4 linked regions of the Homo sapiens genome follow. The protein of the gene in region 3 purifies or fractionates together with the protein of the main gene of each other region. This does not show direct contact. Each region holds a gene or a part of one and is shown on either strand. Other genes may lie near its edges.

Region 1 (3,500 bases), on a different chromosome or scaffold from region 3:
ATTGCTATGACATGTCAGATAATGTTCACCAGCACAATATAGTTCCAGTTATGTATGATTCCTGCAGGATTCTTTCTTTTCCAGAAACCTCTCAAGAAAGCCAACAAGTGAGACTGACATTATTATGAAGATGCCCTTGACCCTGATGTAATTAACTGGCAAACTTTAGTATTTCAACTACTATTTGTAACAAAAGGTTTTCAAGATTCCACACCATGGAGCTTGACAAATCAGGGAGGCATAATTCCATACTTGAGAACTGGGAATGTGAACCTCCAGGATCCCAAACAATGGTTCCCCCATGATAGGCCAGACAGACTAGCACCAATATAGAGCCCTGCATGACTTTGCCATAGTCTGAAGGAGTGATGCCAATTATGAGGCATGGCAGCCAGAGTCAGAGAAACAGAGCATAGTTAGATAGCTCATCTTGGATGAATAGCATGCACTCTTAAAACATCTGGTCAAACATCTTTTTTTCCAAGAAAGGAGGAAAGACTTCAAATCAAATTAATAAGAAACATAAGCTCATTCTGGGGCATTTTTCGACTCTAGTCCAAACTGATTCCTCAGGGGATTTATAGCAGGAGTCAGAGTGACCTTTGTTGCCTCCAATTTAGGGTCTGTGGGCAGCTTGGAGTCCAGATGGTGGGGAACACTGCGGGCCTCAGCTGTGCTTGCCCTGCTGTGCTGCTCAGGCCTCTGGGCACATGCAGACTGTGAGATGGGGTCCCTGGTGTTTTCTTAGCCTCCTGCATTGTTTCAGGAGATGTGGGACAGGAGCACAGGGAGGGCAACAGCCTCTCAGTGACCTGTGTTGTAAAATGATCACATCCCAAGCATGCTTTGCTCTTTCCTTACTTCCTCCAGAGCACTTGGTGGGCAGTGGGACATGCTGCCATGTGCTCTCTCAGGCTGGACAGGCTTTTGTGGGTAGTGATGGCTAAAGCTGCACTGCCATGTCTTGCAGCAAACCACCACTGAGCCACGTGGCTCTTCTTCCAAGGTTCTCTCATTAGCCTCTCTCTGGTGTCAACCTGATTAGGCTTTTGATGAAGGACGATGGCACTGTCAGCCAAATGAATTGATAAGAATTATGGACTTTTTCTCCCTTATCTCACAGAGGTATCAGTGAAGGCCTAGAGAGTGGGACTGCTCCTGGGCCCACACAGCATAGGACACAGAAGATGCCTCAGTCCATAATGATTATGATGAACGAACGACTAATTTATCAAGTACCTCAAGACATAGTTGCAAAAAGCACGTGCCAATACTCAAACATTTATTTTGGGGATTTGGCTGGACAGCTTGACTATTACTCCTCTGACCCTCTCAAAGATCACAGTAAGAAAACCTTAATTCATGGCTTTGACTCTCAGGAGACTAGAGACAAGGCATCCCAACAATATGGCCACAGCAGCAGCATTTAGCACAGGCTGAAGAAAACATGAATGCAGTCAGGGACAATCTGAGACAACAAAATGGATATTTGTGCCTCTGTCTGTCCTCTACTTAACATAAAACCCCCAAACTCAGCAAATAGATTTTCTTCCACCACATTGTACTGCAAATTTCAAGCCCCTGGGAAAGATATCTAAGGAGTGCTTTGACTGCATTTCTGTTATTTGGTCATTCTGTGATTTTTTTGTCTTACCTGTTGTCGAATTTCTTCCTCCATTTTCACGGGTGAGCCCAATTCTGCAACTTGTTTGACGCCTTCGCTGGCATATCCTCCATATTCCCACAGTACATAATTCTTGGAGTGGGATCCTCCGATGATCGCAGACCAGTGGTTGGCCCGACCTGGGAAAGCCAATCAGGAGGCAGTTATCAGCATGGCTGTGGCTGAAACACGAGTCCCTTAAATGATGGGGAGGATGCGTAATTGGACATCGATTCAAAGAGCACTGACTAAGCACCTATTCTGTCTTAGGCCCTGTGCCATTCAGTGATAAGACTGAGTTCCTATAAGCAAATAGGTCTTGGGAATGTACAGACAGGTCAACAGCAGATGTTGAACAAGACGCAGAGGCAGCCCAGAGATGCGTTCTGTCTAGGAAGGTCTCAGAGAAGGGGATAGTTGAGAGAACGTTAAAGGCTGATCATATTTGTAAGGCAAAATAGAGTAGAAAGGACTGTTCTGGCAGACTCCCATCCAAGTGCTAACCAGGCTTGACCCTGCTTAGCTTCTGAGATCAGACAAGATTGGGTGCATTCAGGGTGGTATAGCCATAGACCAGACTCAGAAACATTAAATAACATTGTGTGTTTGGAGAGTCATAACTAATTCAGCATTGCTGTGTCACAAACTGTCAAGGGGAAAGTTAGGAGATGATGCCAGGGAGGTAGGAAGAAGCTGGCTCATGAATGGCCTTGCTCTAAATGCTTCAGGAGTTTGGATGTCATTTGAAAGGATCTGAGAACCACTGAAGGGTTCTGGCAGAGGAGTGATATAATTGCATTTGAATTTTAGATAAATCATCCAGACAGCAGTGTGAAGAATGCATTGGAGAGAGCACAGTTGGAGTGGAGAGCTGGAGAGGTAAGCAAGGAGCAAAAGATAAAAGAAATGTGTGGGGACCAGCCTTAGAAGTAAACATGGTTGATTTCAGCTGACTTCTATGTACATTTCAGTACAAGGGGCAGGCAGGTTAGCTATATTTAAAGGATGTGATGGACAGTTTGGATATGTGGAAGTGACCAGTCCACAGTGGTTTGGTGAAGATCACATGGGATGGTGGCTGCAGTGGGATGTGGGAGGGAATTAATGCACAACACAACAGCATGGGAAAACAGAGTAAGATCTGGGCTGGAGCAAGACAGAACTTGACTTGAGGATTTTATTTAAGTCCTGGAGGAAGAAGGAACTGATAGTATCAGCACCTTACTGGATTTGTTTTTTACATGTGATGAATACAGATGCATATACATTTATTATTGACTAAGTTACATATAATTAGTTCATCACACAGTTGGCTCAATTCTCAGCCATTCTTTGGTTGGTTAAACAAAGTCTCAAGTTAAATAACATTTTCAGGCATATCAAAGAGGAAAACTTGAACTGGGTGAACCCAACTAACATTTTCAGTTTCCCATCCTGTGGCCCAGAGTGGGCAGAACTCTTCACCCCATTACTGCCTATTTTAATAAACACTCTTGAAAAAAGAAAAAAAAAAAAAAGAAAGAAAGAAAGTGGTTCTGAACATGGCCTGGTTCTGTTTACAGCTCACATCGCTTCCCCATGGCCCTCTGCTCCAGGGCCACATCAAGAACATAGGTGTAAAGCCAGGCCGCACCTTCCTGGCCTGCTGAGGGCAGCCACGGCCCACCCCAGGCAGAGGACATCACCATGCGGGTTTGCCCAATTGCTTGTTCATTATTTCCTACACATCGGGAAAATGCAGACCCCATGTTTATCCTTCATCTCTCATATCCCTAGAGTAGACAGATAGAGATGCTGCCAGCCGTTTCTCTAACTCATTTCCTGGGTGAAGAGTCCT
Region 2 (3,500 bases), on a different chromosome or scaffold from region 3:
TATGTACTAATTTCCAAGGCAGGGGCCAAAAGAAATGGTCAAGGCAGAAGGCCAGAAAAGAACACAGATAACCAGAACCAGAAGAGCACAAAGGCCATTGAGAAGAAGGGGCTAATAAAATATTAAATTCCTCAAGTAATGGTATGTCTTCAATCTGCTTCTATTTCATTTCTCATAGGATACAGTACAGTGTTAGACATTTGACTCAGTGCTTAATAAGTACCATATTGATTAATTAACAGAAGCCTACAAGTGAAAAAAGAAAGAGGAGGGAGACTGGGAAGGAAAGAAAAAGAGACAGAGGTAGGAAGAGAGAAGAAGGGAAGGAAGGAGGGGAAGGAAAGAGAGAGAAAAAAGAACAATGATCATGAGTTTATATAAAACAGCCCCTTAGAGGGATCAAAAGCAAGGTTAAACTACAGAAAATATGGGTAAGACCAAGCTTAAAGTTAAAGGAAAGGCAATAGGGCGTAGAGATACTAAAAAAACTGTGGCTGGTATCTACATACTTGTCCTTTCTATTAGCAACAACTAGCTATGTGACCTGGAACAAATCCCTTATCCATACATGTATTCGAATATTACTGATGGTCTATTATTTGATTAGCACTGTCCTAGAGATTCAGAGATAAAACACATTGGTCCCTGCCTGGCAGAATGTTCATTCTAGCTGGGGAGGGACACAGATAATAAAAGTAAGCAAAGTGCAATGTTAGAGGGTAAAAAGAAAAAAGGCACAATAGGGTAGATGGGGAATACTGGGGGTGGGAATGGGGTTGGTATTTTATATAGCACGGTCAGGAAAAGCCTCAACTAGAAGGTGACATTTGAGCAAAGAGTCAAAGTGATAAGACAAAGCTAAGTGGATTATTTTAGGAAGAAAGTTCAAGGCAGAAGGAACAAATGTACAGGCCCTGATTTGGGAGTCCACATGGCATGCTGAAGAAGGCTGTATGGCTAGAGTAGAATGAAAGAAAGGGCAAGTAAATGAGATGAAGTCCACTCATGTGAAGCCTTATAAGGCCACTGAAAGATTTTTATTTTTACTCTTAATGAGATGGGAAGCTGCTAGAGGGTTATCCGAATAGGAATGAGGTCATTTAACTTAAGTTTTAAAAGAATCACTCTTGGTGCTATGTAAAGAACTGACTTTGGGGTAGGTAAAATAGATGAAGGTAACCCAATTAGGAGGCTGTTGCAATAATCCAGGTGGGAAAAGATGGTGGCTTGGGTCAAGGTGGTAGTTGTGAAAATGGTGAGAAGTGGTTGGATTCTGAAATATTTTGAAGATAGGGCCAAAGGTAGGTTTAAGTTGCAAGAAAGGGATGTCGAGAATGATTCCATTAGTTTTTTGTTTTTTTTTTTTTTTTTGCTGGGCGTGGTGGCTCACGCCTGTAATCCTAGCACTTTGGGAGGTTGAGGTGGGCGGATCACAAGGTCAGGAGCTCGAGACCAGCCTGGCCAATATGGTGAAACCACATCTCTACTATAAATACAAAAATTAGCCAGGCGTGGTGGCGCATGCCTGTAATCCCAGCTACTCAGGAGGCTGAGGCAGGAGAATCGCTTGAACCCGGGAGGCGGAGGTTGCAGTGAGCCGAGATTGCGCCACTGCACTCTAGCCGGGGCAACAGAGTGAGACGCTGTCTCAAAAAAAAAAAAAAAAAAAATTTTTTTTTTTTGTTTGCCTGAGCAATGAAAGATTGAAATTGCATTTAGTAAGATAGAAAACAGCAGAGAAAAGCAGGCACAGGATGGAAGTCAGGAGTTTGAGGACTTACATGTAAGATGTCCATTAGACATCCAAGTAAAGCTGCTGAGGAGGTAGCTGGACATGAATACGGAGTTCAGGAGAGAGATACAAACTGTAGATAATAACACTGGGAGTCATCAGCAAGTATATGAAGATAATATATATATTTCTGAGATTACCCAGAAAGTCAGTGTAGACTGAGAAAAGAAGGACCACGTTCTGGGCCATTCCAATATTTAGAAGTTGAAGAGATATGGAGAAACCAGTACAGGGCTTTGAGAAGGAATGTCCACTGAGGTAAGGGGAGCCCCCAAGGGAGTGAGTGATATTCTCAAAGCCAATGAAACAAAAGGTTTATACCATGATCAAGTGGGATTTATCTCAGGAATGAAAGGCTGGTTCAACATATAAAAGTCAATCAATACACCACATTGACAGAATAAAGGACAAAAACCATATGAACATCTCAAGAGACACAGCAAAAGCATTTAACAAAAATCCACCACTAAGGATCCATAAATGGAATCCTCTGAAGATGTTAAAATAATGTGGTAGATCCCTATGTATTGATACAACAAAACTTTAAAGATAAACTGCAGAGTGAAAAATCAAGTTGCAGAACAGCATATACTACATGATTCCATTTATGTTTTAAAAAATTCATAGGAAGGAGGGGGAAGCTGGGAGGGGGAAAAAATTCATAGGAAGGAAATACAGGAAAAAATAAACACAAAAAGCTGGTAAGTAATATACTGCCTAATAGTGAGCTAAAACATTAACTATAAAAAAGGGGTAAATCTTGTTCATAAAAATCACCACTGTAACACACCCTGGGCATGTCATAATTTTGATATTCTCAAGTCGCTTACTTACAGTAGCAACAGGGTCATTGCTCCGGGTGGCTGCAAGACTGAAACATTTCACATGTGTGTTGGTTTCCAAAGCCTTTGCAAAATCTTTTAGGGTTGGAATTGGGATATTCTTGAAAGACAATAACATAAAACATCATTACATTTCAATTTTCATTATATTTAGTTTCCATTAATCAAATATATGGTTTTTTTTGCTTTAAAATGTATTCAGAAATTATACAAACACCTAAGAATTAGTCTACAAATGAATACAAATAATGCAGCTTCCTCCATAATTATCTGACTTATCTACGATGGAGCATTTGCATAAACTACTGACTCAGAGCAGAGCACATATCACCATTTCTCTAGCATTTAGGTTAAAAAAAATTCTCATTATTCTCACCTTTCATTATTCCTTTTATTTATTTATGTATTTTGAGACAGAGTTTTGCTCTTGTTGCCCAGGTTGGAGTGCAACGGCGCAATCTCAGCTCACTGCAACCTCTATCTCCCAGGTTTAAGCAACCCTCCTGCCTCAGCCTCCCAAGTAGCTGAGATTACAGGCATGCACCACCAGGTCCAGCTAATTTTGTATTTTTAGGAGAGATGGGGTTTCATCATGTTGGTCAGGCTGGTCCCGAACTCCTGACCTCAGGTGATCCACCCTCCTCGGCCTCCCAAAGTGCTGGGATTACAGGCATGAGTCACTGCACCCAGCCTTCATTATTCTTTTTATATGAAAATAAAAGTGGATTTACTTTTCTACAAGGAAAGAAATGAAGGAGTCCATCTCTGATGAGTACGATTCCTGAGGCAGACAGACTGTTCTCAGTCACTTAGTTTAAGCTACAAAGCACTAAGAGAGATTAACCCTACACTACTTGAAGGAGAGA
Region 3 (4,108 bases):
TTCTTGGCTGTCTGTGTCCCATTCACTGGGGCCATCAACTTTCTATTTCTCCACGTGTCTGGCAGGACACGTTTGCTAGCAGAAGCTGTTTTGTGCCCTGGATTGGAAAATAAGTCACAGATACCATTAGGTCAGTGTGATGGCTGCGTTTCCAAAATGACCTTACATTTGTGTGTCTATGTCAGCAACAGCCCTGTTTGCCTATTCAGAGCCATCTTTAGGGACTGATAGGATGATTGGAAGTATAATATCACCTGCTTACATACAATGGCCTGTTTCCTGGATCTAGTTCACTGTTTCCAGTCCCAGATGGGTCAGCATGTGACCTGACCTTGGCCAAGACTGAGGTGGTCTCAGCACCTCATAGGTGCAACAAACGGTTTAGATAGGTGACCTTTTAAGTGTTCTTCCAGTAAAGGACACTCTCAGAGGGCCCCTGCCCTGGAGGAACTTCACGAATGAATAGCAAGTCAGCAAGCAGGTGGGCAAGGCTGATGCGGTCTGGCCCAGTGCTCCTCACACTTGAATGTGCACACAGATCACCTGGGGATCTTGTTAGAATTCAGATTCTGACTCAGCAGGTCTGGGGTGGGACCTGGGATTCTGCACTAACAAGCTCCCAGGTGGTGCTGATTCTGCTGGTCCAGGGGCCATACTGGGCAAGAGAGAATTTGCGGAGGCCCGCAACCAAGCACACTTAAACTCCTAAAGGTAATTCCTGATCCAGCAAATAAAAATGATTCTCACTTTAAGACCTTCAGAGTATTCATTTACCTCTCCTGATGCGCACTGCTTCAGCTGGGTAATAATACCTCTTCTATAATGCTGATGTCTAAGAGCCTCTAGGTATGTTGTTATTTCTGGTGTGTAATTGAGGGGGGAAAAAAATCCAAACACTGACTTGCCCAATTGCAAAGCACCAGGTACTAAGATATTCAAAATAATCTTCCTGGGTCTCACTGCAAAGAGCCACTTTTTAACCCTGCATCCTCAAATCACAAAGTTTAGGTTTCGAAAGGCAGTTATTTTGAAAACTTTAATCAAGTTCCACTGGATTTTTACCTATCAGTGTACACCTCTCTAAATGGTCTCTGGATGTTGACGGCCTTTCTAACTGCTCAAGAAGGTACTACCCGCTTTACCTTCCATGTCTTGGTGTTTAAATCACCAGCATTTCTTTTGTCTTTTTACATTTAAAAAAATAATGAAATTAAAAGGTTCACAGCATCCAACTCAAAATGAGACGATTAGGGAAGTGAATGTCTCCTGAGTTAGGGAAGTGAATGCCTCCTGAAGGTTACACATGGGGTCACATCCCCCTAAACACACTTCTTTGGTTAGTTCCTTCTCTCTTCCCGCTCCACCTGAAATTTGCATAGCCTAAGCTACTCCCAAATCCCTCTTCTTGGAGGAGGGGGCATGGGTCGAGGCTCCACACACCCGCCTTCTCCCTCCGTGGGAGTTAAGGGGAGTTGAGAGACGCGATGCTGAAACATGGCAGCTACCCCCCGCGGCAGACTGCCCCAACGCCTTTAGGGTTTGGGAAGAACAAACACCTCAGGGCACCCAGGGGACCCCTTTGAACCAGGGCAGGGGCGAGACGCAGTGGCGGTTCCTGCGGCTCTGCAGAATAGGAAAGCGGGCCACTCAGTTTCGCCCACCCCAGACCAAGAGAATCCTGCCTGCACCCCGCAGTTGCGCTGCCCATTCCGGGCGCACTCCCGGGACGGAAGCGGTTCTTGCTTTCGTCTTAGTAACACACACCTGCAGCCGCGTCCTGAGCCCCCCCAGGGGCCGCTCGTAGCTCAGGGGAACCGGCGCCACAGCCCAGAGCGTCCATCAGCTCTTCTGGGCGCGCTCTACCTGCCCGGCGGGGAGGGGACTGGATGAACCCTTGGGACCAACCTGATGAGGAAGGAGGGGAAAACATCTCGCAGCCGCCCCGAGACTCCCCAGCCAAAGCCCCCAACTCCCCAGGAAGAGGGGACCCGTACCAGCACCCACCCAAGCTGCCGAAGAGGCCGGACGCACAGCACACCAGGGCCAGCACCGCGCACACGAAGCCGACTTGCTGCGGCAGCATCTCTCGCCTCCTGCGAACTTTGAGCGGCCGGAGGGTCCCGCGGAGCGCCATCCCGGAGCGCCTGGGTGCCGTCTCTGGGAGAGGATGGGGAGCTTCAGCGGCCAGAGTGCAATCAGTGGCCGAGCGGCGCTGGGGCTGGAGCAGGCGGTGCGCGACTCAGAGGCGAGGAGCTCCGGGCCAAAGCCTCATGGCCCGAGGGCGAGGTCGGCGGGGGAGCCCCTTGGGAAGGTGGGGACGCGCGACGCGGCCGGAGCTCAGAGTCCCGCGCGCCGCGTGCGCGCTGCGCGCACCATGGCTCCGTGGCGAGGAGGCGACGCCGGCACGGTGGCGCTGGCGGCCCGGGCTCGCAGGGCTGGCGCAGTCCCGGCGCTAGAGCCGCTACCTGCCCGCTCCGCTTCGGCCGGCTCGCCCGGCCACAGCCCTGGCAGCAGCGCCGTAGGGAGCACTCAGTGCGCCCCCGCGCCCCGCGCCGCCGCGCCCACTCGCAGCATCCTCCTCCTCCAAGTTTGGCGGCGGCCGCCCCGGCTGCCAGCCGGCGATGTTCCCCTGCTTCCCGACGAGCCGAGCCCGGGCGGCCGAGTGCGCGCCGCGGGAAGGCTGGCTGGACGCGCGGTACCTGAGACCCTCGCGGCGAGCAGGCTCGACGTCGGCCCTCCCAGGGGCGAGCTCTCCCCGGGAACTTTCTCTCTGGCTTCTCGGCTGCGGGCGCCAGCGTCTGAGAGGCCGTGGCGCCTCCCGCCCGCTGCTCTCGCCTCCCTACTCCTCCCCTCCTGCCCGCCTCTCACCCCCCGCCCTTCCCAGCACGTGTACTCGTCCCGTAGGGCGCACTCCCCCGTGCACTCTTCTCTTCAGTAGTTGGACCTCTACTGACCAATATAATCCCCTTCCTTCTCCCTTTTTCTCTCCTTTCTTCCATATGGAGCTGCAACGAGCCCTTCCTTTACCCTCTGAGGCTGCTGCAGAGAGAAACAGGTTATGGCACCGCTGGGGACTCTTAGAAAAAGGGTTTCTGCAGTGTAGTCGCTCCTGTCCGGGCTCTCCGACCCCCGAGCCGACCCGAGGCCCCGCCACACACCCCCTCCCCACCCCGCCACCCACCACGGGGGGAAGATGCAGGAGAAAATTAATTGGTCGTGCAGAGCTAACAAACAGGCTTGCACCAAGCCAACACGAGCTTGGACCCGCTGGGACCAGCTCCTTCAGGGCTCTCGGGGCTGTTGGGGATCTGCGAGGCCGCGACACCGACCTGCAAAAAAGCTGGAGACGGGGCAGAGAGGGGAACCAGAGAGATCTGCGGGCCCCACAACCGACGGTTGAGCTTTCCATGTTCCTAAGCCTACCGCTTCCCAGGGCTTGCTGGTTTGGTTTTGTATCTCTCCTTTCTGGTCGGCTCTCTGGTGTAAACCGCTTTAAAAATGGGGCAGGAGGGAAAATTTCAGAACAGCAGCTGAGGGGTGATACAGGTGCAGGCAGGTGGAGGGGACCCCAGCCCAGGGGGTCTGTGACTACCCCTAGGACCGACTTCCTTCCCGGCCAATTCATCGCCACCTGTTCAGTGCCGCTAGGGGTTAAAATCCTTCTTGGAACAGGCCAACTCTTTAATTAAATAAATACATACCCACCGTGTGCAGGCCCTGTGCCAACCGGAGAACAAAACAATAACAAATGTATGAGACCCAGTCTCTGCTTTCAAGGAACTCTAAATCAAAAGGGAGCAAGGCCCTTAGATAAATGCCCCATTAAGGAGGGTCCTGAAAGTCACTGTTGTGCAGAATGTGCGTTGTTCCCTCACAGCTCACTACACTACCGTGTGGTCCTCAGCAGCATGAGAATTGCCTAAGAGCTTATGCGACACACAGACTCTTAAGATTCCACCCCAGACCTACTGAGTCAGAATGTACATTTTTAACGAGATCCCTTGGAAATTTGTGTGCACCTTCACGTGTGAGAAGTGCTCCCTTTTCAAGCCCGCTCCAATGCCTCTAGCCAGTCACCACCCACACGGTTCCCTCTGGACTGAGTAAG
Region 4 (3,500 bases), on a different chromosome or scaffold from region 3:
AGCGTGTAATCGGGAGGCTGAGGTGGGAGAATTGCTTGAACTTGGGAGTCGAAGGCTGCAGTAAGCTGAGATCACGCCACTTCACTCCAGCCTGGGTGACAGAGTGAGACCCTGTCTCAAAAAAAAAGAAAAGAAAAAAAAAGGCTGAATAGGGGTTTATCAAGCAAAAGGAAAGCCACACCCAGTTGAGTGAATAGCAGGTGGTGGCTGAGGTGGGAGGATCGCTTGAGCCTGGGAGTTCAAGGCTGCAATGAACTATGATCATGCCACTGAATTCCAGCCTGGGCAACAGAGCGAAGCTCTGTCTCAAAAAAAAAAAAAAAAAAGTGGGGGGTGGAGGTGATGGGAGAACAAAGAATGTCTGTGAAACTGCAAAAGCAGGAGCAAGAATGAGGAAGAGGCTGGGAAATTCAGTGGGGTTCGGCCGTGGAAGTGTGTCCTTTGTTCCCGACGTAGCTGCCACGTAGCAACTGCTTTGGGTGCTGTTTCAAACTAAAAAGCCCAATTCCACCTCTGATCATTGCTATACCTTTGAGATGGTATTTCTGGAGGAACCAGGGGAATCAGGTGAGAGGCAGGCTCTGTATTTATTTATACAACTATGCTCAGATCTCGCTAAGAAGAGCCTCATGTTCTATCTCTATCCTCCTGAGATGGAGATCAAAGATGGTGCTCAGACCCCATGGAAGAGGACTCAAGAGTGTGCAGGAGAAATCCAGCTCTTTCTGTAGGGGAAAAACCCTGGCTGCCAGGCACCAACGCTACTGTTAAATAAAGGGCAGATTCCCCATAACCTGACAGGCTCCTGCATCCCTCGGGAGAAGAAAAGAACAAAGTCCAGCAAGCCACCCTCCAGCTCAAGCCAACCACCTACCTTTTCAGATGCAGCCTCCAGAGATTTCAGATTGTTAGTAACATTCTTGAGTTCTTCTTCCAGGTCACCACATTTTCTGCACAAAGACAAAGGATTTTTGTGTCTTATCTTCCCTTACAGCCGGCAATAATAGCAATCGCCCCAACAATAAATTTTCCAAAGGAGAAACCTACACAGCTCCCCCGGTGGGGGGCAGAAGGAATGTGGGGAGAAAATGTTAATGGATTTTTCTGCAGTGTGATACTATGGGCTTATCAAAGGCTTATCATACCAGGCAGAGGCGAGGTGCGCCCGAAGAGTATTTGGAGGGCTTGGAAAACACTCCTGGTCTTTTGCCAAGGGTAAGGCTGCAAGGACTTGTGAAATCTATGATTGATGAGGCCGACTCCGGAAGGTGTAAGAATGGGACTGAGGGCAGAAGGCGGGCAGAGAGCAATGGGAGTTTGCAGGGGACACTCCGGGAAGGAAGCCCGGAGTGGATTTGTGAAACCAGATCTCTCTCAGCACTCCCGGATGCTCTGTGGGGCTGAATTCCTCACCCGGGGCCAAGAGGACAGGTGTTTTGTTTTTCGGTGCTTGCTTGTGGGATTCTGGTTAAGCTTCTCACCTTCCCGCCAGGAATGTGTCACGGCCAAACACTGACAGGAGCAAAAGCATTTACATACTGACCGGGGGAGCCTGCCTTCTGGAGCAGGTCAGTGTTCTGTTAAGATGGCACAGCCCCCTGAGATATCCTCTCTGGGAAAATGGGACTTCTGGGCTTCCCTGCTGCCTCCTGTCTCACTCCTATTTCCTCATATCTTTGCAGAAAGGGTCAACACGTGGGCAGTGCTTCCCATGGCAGTAAGAACAAGTCACCACCTCTTTGTCACAGAAGCCAAGAGAAAAGATGAGCCATGAGCCCCTGACGCCCGTCCACTTGAGCAGAGACCCCGGTCAGAGCCAATTCCCAACACAGCCAGCTCCTTCCCACTCCGCCCCAGGAATCGAGCCAGCCTCGCTCAGTCCTGTTCTGCCACTCACAGTTCAGACACCTCCGCACGCTCCTCTGCCCTCTCCAGCTCACCCTCCAGGATGACCAGCTTACGAGCTACCTGCAGAGACAGAAAGGCCCAGCTGAGCCCGATCCCCACCAGCCGTGTCCTCTCCCATCCACTGCAGACAGCCCCCAATGATGCCCCACCCAGACCCCTAGACCAGCTGCAACATGGGTTTTTCTGGTGTTTCTTTTTTTTGCAGGGGGACGGAGTCTCCCTCTGTTGCCCAGGCTGGAGTGCAGTGGCACAGTCTCGGCTCACTGCAACCTCCACCTCCTGGGTTCAAGCGATTCTCCTGCCTCAGCCTTCCAAGTAGCTGGGACTACAGGCGCGTGCCACCACGCCCAGCTAATTTTTGTATTTTCAGTCGAGATGGGGTTTCACCGTAGTGGCCAGGCTGGTCTCGAATTCCTGACCTCCTGATCCACCTACCTCGGCCTCCCAGAGTGCTGGGATTATAGGCATGAGCCACCACACCTGGCCTCTTTTTTATTTTTTTATTCTTTTGAGACAGAGTCTCGCTCCATCACCCAGGCTGAAATGCAGTGGCTCAACCTTGACTCACTGCAACCTCTGCCTCCTGGGTTCAAGTGAATCTCCTGTCTCAGCCTTCCAAATAGCTGGGCTTACAGGCATGCACGACCATGCCCGGCTAATTTTTGTATTTTTTGTAGAGACAGGGTTTCACCACGTTGGCCAGGCTGGTCATGAACTCCTGACCTCAGGTGATCTGCCTGCCTTGGCCTCCCAAAGTGCTGGGATTACCGGCGTGAGCCACCATGCCCAGCCCTTTTATGTTTTTGACAGAGGGTCTTGCTCTGTCTCCAAGGCTGGAGTGCAGTGGCGTGGTCAGAGCTCACTGCAGCCTTGACTTCCCAGGTTCAAGCGATCCTCCTGCCTCAGCCTCCCAAGTAGCTGGGACTACAGGTGCATGCCACCACACCCAGCTAATTATTATTATTATTATTTTTAGAAATGGGGTCTCACTATGTTGCCCAGGCTGGTCTCAAACTCCTGGCCTCAGGTGATCCTCCCGCCTCGGTCGAAGTGCTGGGGTTACAGGTACGAGCCACCGCGCCTGGCCTTTTGCTGGCGCTTCAACTGAAAGAGCCATCCTGGGGCCTGGAGGAAATCCTGATTCTCTTCCTCAAGCCTGAGGAGCGAGGCAGACAAGAGGCGGGAGGGAAGAGCCGAGCCATCGAGGGAGGCAAAGGAGGGCCTGAGCTTGCATGGTCTGAAACTCCATGGCTTGGGACCACAATCCTCCATTTTTGCCCAACTGTGCCAAAACTCCCAGCTAACGACACAAGTGAGCTGATCATTCGGTTTTCCCATTACGTTAGACAAGCGTCCGCAGCACTTTCTGGCATCGTGGGAGATAGTTTCCTAGCCAAGTGGTTGTCTCTGGACAAACATATGTTCACGCAGGAGGACAGCTGACCTAACCGAGAGCTTCCTTTCGTTGGCCCCGGTGTCCTCCCTATCTCAGCAGATGCATTTCCTCCCACTTCCTGCTGCTGCGCCATCTGCCAGCCCCACTCACCTCCTCGTATTTGCGGTCAGCCTCTTCCGCAATGTGCTTGGCCTCT

Evidence for each region.
Region 1: the proteins of SLC24A4 (region 3) and SPON1 fractionate together in Homo sapiens (co-fractionation; one large-scale study listed by BioGRID). This does not show direct contact.
Region 2: the proteins of SLC24A4 (region 3) and TMOD3 purify together in Homo sapiens (affinity purification with mass spectrometry; one large-scale study listed by BioGRID and IntAct). This does not show direct contact.
Region 4: the proteins of SLC24A4 (region 3) and TPM4 purify together in Homo sapiens (affinity purification with mass spectrometry; one large-scale study listed by BioGRID and IntAct). This does not show direct contact.

Annotation. Positions count from the first base shown.
Region 1 is NC_000011.10:14,133,723-14,137,222, reverse strand, and holds part of SPON1 (spondin-1 precursor), read right to left. Parts: intron 1,804-3,500; coding exon 1,655-1,803; intron 1-1,654. UniProt on the Homo sapiens protein: Cell adhesion protein that promotes the attachment of spinal cord and sensory neuron cells and the outgrowth of neurites in vitro. May contribute to the growth and guidance of axons in both the spinal cord and the PNS.
Region 2 is NC_000015.10:51,895,653-51,899,152, reverse strand, and holds part of TMOD3 (tropomodulin-3), read right to left. Parts: intron 2,735-3,500; coding exon 2,627-2,734; intron 1-2,626. UniProt on the Homo sapiens protein: Blocks the elongation and depolymerization of the actin filaments at the pointed end. The Tmod/TM complex contributes to the formation of the short actin protofilament, which in turn defines the geometry of the membrane skeleton.
Region 3 is NC_000014.9:92,321,857-92,325,964, reverse strand, and holds the start of SLC24A4 (sodium/potassium/calcium exchanger 4 isoform 1 precursor), read right to left. Parts: upstream 2,801-4,108; 5' UTR 2,135-2,800; coding exon 2,005-2,134; intron 1,906-2,004; coding exon of another isoform or gene 1,765-1,905; intron 98-1,764; coding exon 1-97. UniProt on the Homo sapiens protein: Calcium, potassium:sodium antiporter that transports 1 Ca(2+) and 1 K(+) in exchange for 4 Na(+).
Region 4 is NC_000019.10:16,086,495-16,089,994, reverse strand, and holds part of TPM4 (tropomyosin alpha-4 chain), read right to left. Parts: coding exon 3,455-3,500; intron 1,969-3,454; coding exon 1,898-1,968; intron 951-1,897; coding exon 875-950; intron 1-874. UniProt on the Homo sapiens protein: Binds to actin filaments in muscle and non-muscle cells. Plays a central role, in association with the troponin complex, in the calcium dependent regulation of vertebrate striated muscle contraction.